2 linked regions of the Homo sapiens genome follow. The protein of the gene in region 1 interacts with the protein of each later gene in a pairwise test. Each region holds a gene or a part of one and is shown on either strand. Other genes may lie near its edges.

Region 1 (2,204 bases):
CCTCCCCAGTAGCTGGGACTATACTATAGGTGCACACCTTTATGCCTGGCTAATATTTTCACTTTTTTGTAGAGACAAGGTCTTGCTATGTTGCTCAGGCTGTTCTTTAACTCCTGGGCTCAAGCAATCCTTCCACCTCAGCCTCCCAAAATTCTGGGATGACAGGTGCGCACCACCGTGCCCAGCCTTATTTAACTTTTTTGTTGCATGTATATTCACGTGGGTCAAAAAACCATTTAAAGAGATTTGCAGTGAAAATCTGCTTTCTATCCACTAAGTTTCCCCAAACGCTGTTAGGCACTGTTGATAGTTGTTTATGTTTCTTTTCAGTTTATTTACACACGTAAGTCTCAATTTGCTCAATTGTAAAAGGAGGATAATAGTAATAACCAACTATATGTAAGATACTTAGAACAGTGTTTGGCAAACAGTGGTTGCCATGTAACTGTTCACTATTATTATCATTATTTGCACTTTTCCCTTTTTACACAAATGGTAATATGCTATATATACTTCTAATCTTTTCTCTTTTTCTTTCTTTCCTTACAAGAAAACCAAAGAAGCCATTTTCTTTTTTGAGACGGGGTCTCGCTCTGTCACCCAGGCTAGAGTGCAGTGGCATGATTATAGCTCACTGCAACCTTGAACTCCTGGGCAATCAAGCAATCCTCCTGCCTCAGCCTCCCTAGTAGCTGGGATTATAGGCATGTGCCACCCCACCAAGTTATTTTTTTTTTAACAACTTTTTTTTTTAAGAGATGGCGTCTTGCTTTGTTGCCCAGGCTGTTCTCCAACTCCTGGCTTCAAGTGATCTGCCCACCTCAGCCTCCCAAAGTGCTAGGATTACAAGCATGAGCCACCGCACCCAGCTGCTTTTTTTAATGAGGTCACTCCTCATGATTTCATAAAGAGCTTTCAAAGCATGGACATTGTACAGTTGCTTGACTTGTGTAGTATTGATGGGCATTTTCCCTCAATCTTCTGCCATTATAAACAAGGCCGGGCAGAGTGGCTCATGCCTGTAATCCCAGCACTTTGTGAGGCGAAGGCGGGCAGATCACCTGAGGTCAGGAGTTTGAGACCAGTCTGGCCAACATAGTGAAACCCCGTCTCTACTAAAAGTCTAAAAATTAGCTGGGCGTGGTGGCAGGTGCCTGTAATCCCAGCTACTCAGGAGGCTGAGGCAGGAGAATCTCTGGGACCTGGGAGGCGGAGGTTGTGGTGAGCTGAGATTGCGCCACTGCACACTCCAGCCTGAGCGATAAGAGCAAGGCTCCGTCTCAAAAAAAAAAAAAAAAAAAAAAAACATTACAGGCATGAGCCATTGTGCCCGGCTGGTCAGATGTTTCTTAAATTTTAGTCATTCCAGTAGATGTGAGTGATATCTCATTATGGTTTTAATTTGCTTTTCCTTAGTGACTAATGGAAGTTTGAACATCTTTCATATACTTATTGGCCATTTAGAAATCCTCTTTGTGAAGAACCTATTCAAGTCTTCTGCCTATTTTATATTGGATGATCTTTTTCTTTCTTTCTTTTTTTTTTTTTTTTTTGAGACAGGGTCTTACCCTGTTGTCCAGGCTGAGCACTGTGGTGCTATCATAGCTCACTGCAGCCTCAACCTCCTGGGCTCAAGACATCCTCCCACTGCAGCCTGGGACTGTAGGCACGTGCCACCACGTCCAGCTAATTTTTGTATGTTTTATAGAGTTGGGGGTCTCACTATATTGTTCAGACTGGTCTTGAACTCCTTTATGCAAGCCATCATCCCACCTCAGCCTCCCAAAGTGTTGGGATTACAGGCATGAGCCATCGTGCCCGGCGGTCTTTTTCTTTCTGATTCTCTGCTCACTCTTGTATTCACTCATCTGTTCACCTACATTCTCTCTCTCTCATTGGCTACTTCACTCACTCCATCATCTACACCTGCTTCCTTTTATACCACACACACTTCTTGAGTACCAATCACAGCCACACTGTTTTGTGTCAGGCTTTACACATATTACCTTGTTTTAGAGAAATAAACCACTAGAATCCAAACAGTTACCCCATTTCACGGATGAGGAAGCAGACGCATGGGAAGGTTATGAAGTCTGTCTTCTTGCAGGGACCCCCAGCTCTCACAAGTGTGTGTTCCTTTCACTGCCTTTATTCTTCATATCTCTCTCTTCTTTTCTTCAGGGAAAGAGTATGCCAAGGGAGAC
Region 2 (3,500 bases), on another chromosome or scaffold:
TTCCTAACAGGCCACGGACCACTACTGTTCCACAGCCTGGAACAGTAGAACGGAGCTGGGGACCGTTTTAGAGTATTCCAGGGTTTTCAGGCAGGAGGCCGTGGGGATTAGGGAAGGGCAGGGCTGGCCAATCACAGGTCTGTATCATCCACTCCGCTTTTGTGACAAATACCCTAGGCCACCTCCAACCTGCTTTAGTTAGCATCAGACTCCCGGAAGAAGGACCTCTGGTTATTTCCAGCCACAGCCACCAGAGGGCGCTCCCATCCCAGAGCTGAGCACAGACTAATGGGTCCCAATATCAGGAGTGCTTGTATGGGCTATGCACTGCTCAAGACTTCACATCAGTTTCATAGAATCCACCCAACTTGCGAGGTGGGGACTTGTTTTCTCCACATGAACCATAACAAAACCCGTGTCCGGGGAGGTTAAGTAATTCACCCAGTCTCTTTGGAGGTAACCTGTGGAACCAGGATGGGAATGCTGCTAAAATCCCCGCTGCTGTCCCTCCCATGCCCTCTTTCCCTGGGACCCGCCCTCACTCTGATGCCGGGTGATGGCCAGCACGAGGAAGGTGCAGAAGGCAGCGATGGAGACGGCCGAGAAGAGGACGCCCACGAAGAAGAAGCCGCGCAGCCCCTTGAGCCAGGTCCTCCAATAATCTTGCATGTACATCACGTGCGTCACCAGGACCCACAGTGCCAGCACCCCTGCAGGAGAGACACATCAGGGCCCATCCCCAGGGTGCTCCAGAGCCCTGCAGATCCACTAGACCAGGCCTATTTGCATAAGAATACCAAGAATATGGTCTTGTCTCTCATTCCCTCATAGAATGGAGTTTTCCTTTTCGGAGGCTGTGATATCAGAAGCAGGTAAGAGACTGAGCTGCCTGCTAGTAAGCCCAACATTAGAGAAACCTGCAGAAATACAAAACCCTACCATTCTCTCTGATTTTATTTTGTTTTGGAAAACATGAATATCTCTCACAAAAATGTTATGTTAATTCATGTTATTTTTAGTATTACTTTAAAATGCTAAAAAATGTTCTAACTTCTAATATAGTATATATCAATAGCTAAAACTCACATACATAAAATTTGCATGGAGTTTCACTACTTTTCAAGAGGATAAAAGGATCCTGAAAACCAGAAAGTCTGTGCCTCAGCAGCCCAGCCTGCTTTCTGGGGACTTGCCACTGTCTACCCTGAGGGCCACAGAGCAGGGAAGCCATGCTCCTGCCCCATGCTCCTCCTCCACCCAGCCCTCAGAGGCCACAGTCTCAAAGTCACAAGGCCTGCAGGGCTCTTCCCAAACTGCCTGAGTTGGTTTTGCAGGATGAGGAGGTCCAGCCATGAAGACTCCAGGGCCACCCAACCCCTGAGTGGCCTTATTGTTCTTGGCCAGACCTCATGCCACTCCCTCCATTTTGCGGCAAAGGGCAGGCCATCACCACCTGCACCGCTCCCCACCCCCACTGCCCCCAGCTTTTCCTGGGCCTGGCCTCTGCGCCTGGGTGGACACTTCCTCTAGGATGCCAGCTGCCACCCAGCCAATACAATACAAAACAACCCTCTGTGCCAGGCAGTGCCTGCTGGTGCAGCCCAAAGAGTGGAACAAATATCAACTCCATTGGCAAGGGTCCGGGCAGGGCGGTGGATCCCGGCAAGGGACAAATGAGGAAGGAGGCAGAGCCAGCTGCAGGCTCTCAGCTGGTTGGGTTGCAAGGTGTGGGCCACTCAGGCCGCTGCATCCTAGGAGTCAGGAGGCCTTTCCAAAAGGCAGCTGCACACATGCCACTCAGAGTAGTTACCAAATGTGCACAGGAAGGATAAGCATCTGGTTGGGGAAAGTGGTTATCTCTGGCAATGGAGACAAGGAAGGGAAGTTGATGGGGCGGTGGGGGTGGGGAAGTGCTTTGAATCTATGGGAATCTATGCTATTTTGTTTCTTAGGCTGGGTGGGAAATCTATGCTATTTTATCTACGCTGTTTTCTCAGGCTGGGTTATAAGGGTGTTTGTTAAATCATCTATCCTTTTTTGTGTGCCTAAAATATTTCATAATTTGTTTAAGGGGGAAAAAGGCAGGAGGAAGCTTGTCACTGTGGAGCTATGCTCTGGTTACCAGCTCAGAGGCTGTCCCAGTTTGGCTGTCCCCAGACAGTCCAGTGAGGAACAAAAACCCATGAGACTCCAAGCCAAGAAACCAGGAGCCTGGCACTGCTGTGTCCCAAAGCCTTGGTGTTTCCACATCTAAAAATGGGTGGGCCCAGGGGTCCTGCCAGTTTAGGTAACTGGGCCCAGGGTTCTACCCTAGTGAGGGTGAAGGCCTACCAAGCCTACAGCTTCCCTCAGCCCCTGCCACCGTTTGACCCCCTGAACACTCTCCCAGCTTTGCCCCTGCCCACCTCCACTCTTCCTCAGGGGGTGGGGGCCTGGAATGTGGGTCCCCCTCCTACTGAGATCAGGGTGGGCCAGGACAAGCATCTGTTCCTCCCCACCTAGTCTGGATGCTGGAGTGGGCCAGAGGTGGACAGGACAATCATCCTGCAGCTTCCTCTTACCTCCTACAAGATCTGGATTTTTATACCAGCCACCTTTCACAGAAGTCCCTCCCACTCCTCACATGTGTCCCATGTTTTCATTTGAGGGAGCTGTTTGGTTTATAAAGGGCCCTGGGAACAAGGGGTGTTGTCACTGAGCACACTCAAGGAGCAGTCTGATGGGCACCTGTCTGGAACAGGTCCCCTCGCCCTCTGTCTCCTCGTGCCACAGAGGGGTTGGGGAAGTTGAGCTCTAAGATCCTTTCCCACTCAAAGATTCTAGAAGCCAGCTTGGGAGAAAAATAAGGTCAGAACAATTCCTCTGTGACTCAGCAGTTTCTGGGTTAGGAAATGCTGAAATAGGGGCCTGTGAAGATGCCATCTCTTAGTCCACTGGCCACGATCCAGTGGTTCCCCAAAACTCCCACCCCCATGTACATGCACATACCAAAGAGGGCTGAGGGCAGGAGGGAGAGGAAGACAGCCATTTGGGGGCGTTTTGGGCCCTGTTCTTTGTTAACAACAGGCATGGTTTACCCACCTCTCACCTTCCCTCAACCTTGCTCCAGGCCCTGCACAGAGGCCTCCCCTCCAGATAAACACACATCAAGTGTGGAGGCAGGCCTGCTGCCCACGCCCTGGCTCCCACCACCCTCCTGGGAAGGGAGCTCTCCACCAGCCCTACCCAAGGGGGTCACTGAAGGAGATGGAGCCCCTCACTGGTCCCCTCCCACACATCAGGCAGGAGGCAATGTATCTCCCTAATACCCTTCCCTGGCACACTTGGGGACTCTAGGAAGCCTGGTTTATAAAACTCGGGGTGGAATGGACAGGTCCCCAATCCCACCTGGCTGCAAGCCCACACCAGACCACACCGTTGCTCCATCCTACCTGTTTCAAGGAGCAGAGCCCCTGCTTAGCCATGTGAGCTTATTGGCTCACAGCCGATAAGCTAAGGGT

The links. Proteins that work in one complex are often made in the same cells at the same time.
Region 2: the proteins of EBP (region 1) and SLC48A1 interact in binary tests that used the Homo sapiens proteins (3 or more experiments, as listed by UniProt).

The regions. Positions count from the first base shown.
Region 1 is NC_000023.11:48,524,808-48,527,011, forward strand, and holds part of EBP (3-beta-hydroxysteroid-Delta(8),Delta(7)-isomerase), read left to right. Parts: intron 1-2,181; coding exon 2,182-2,204. UniProt on the Homo sapiens protein: Isomerase that catalyzes the conversion of Delta(8)-sterols to their corresponding Delta(7)-isomers a catalytic step in the postlanosterol biosynthesis of cholesterol.
Region 2 is NC_000012.12:47,776,238-47,779,737, reverse strand, and holds part of SLC48A1 (heme transporter HRG1), read right to left. Parts: intron 711-3,500; coding exon 543-710; intron 1-542. UniProt on the Homo sapiens protein: Heme transporter that regulates intracellular heme availability through the endosomal or lysosomal compartment. In macrophages of the reticuloendothelial system, is the heme transporter for heme-iron recycling.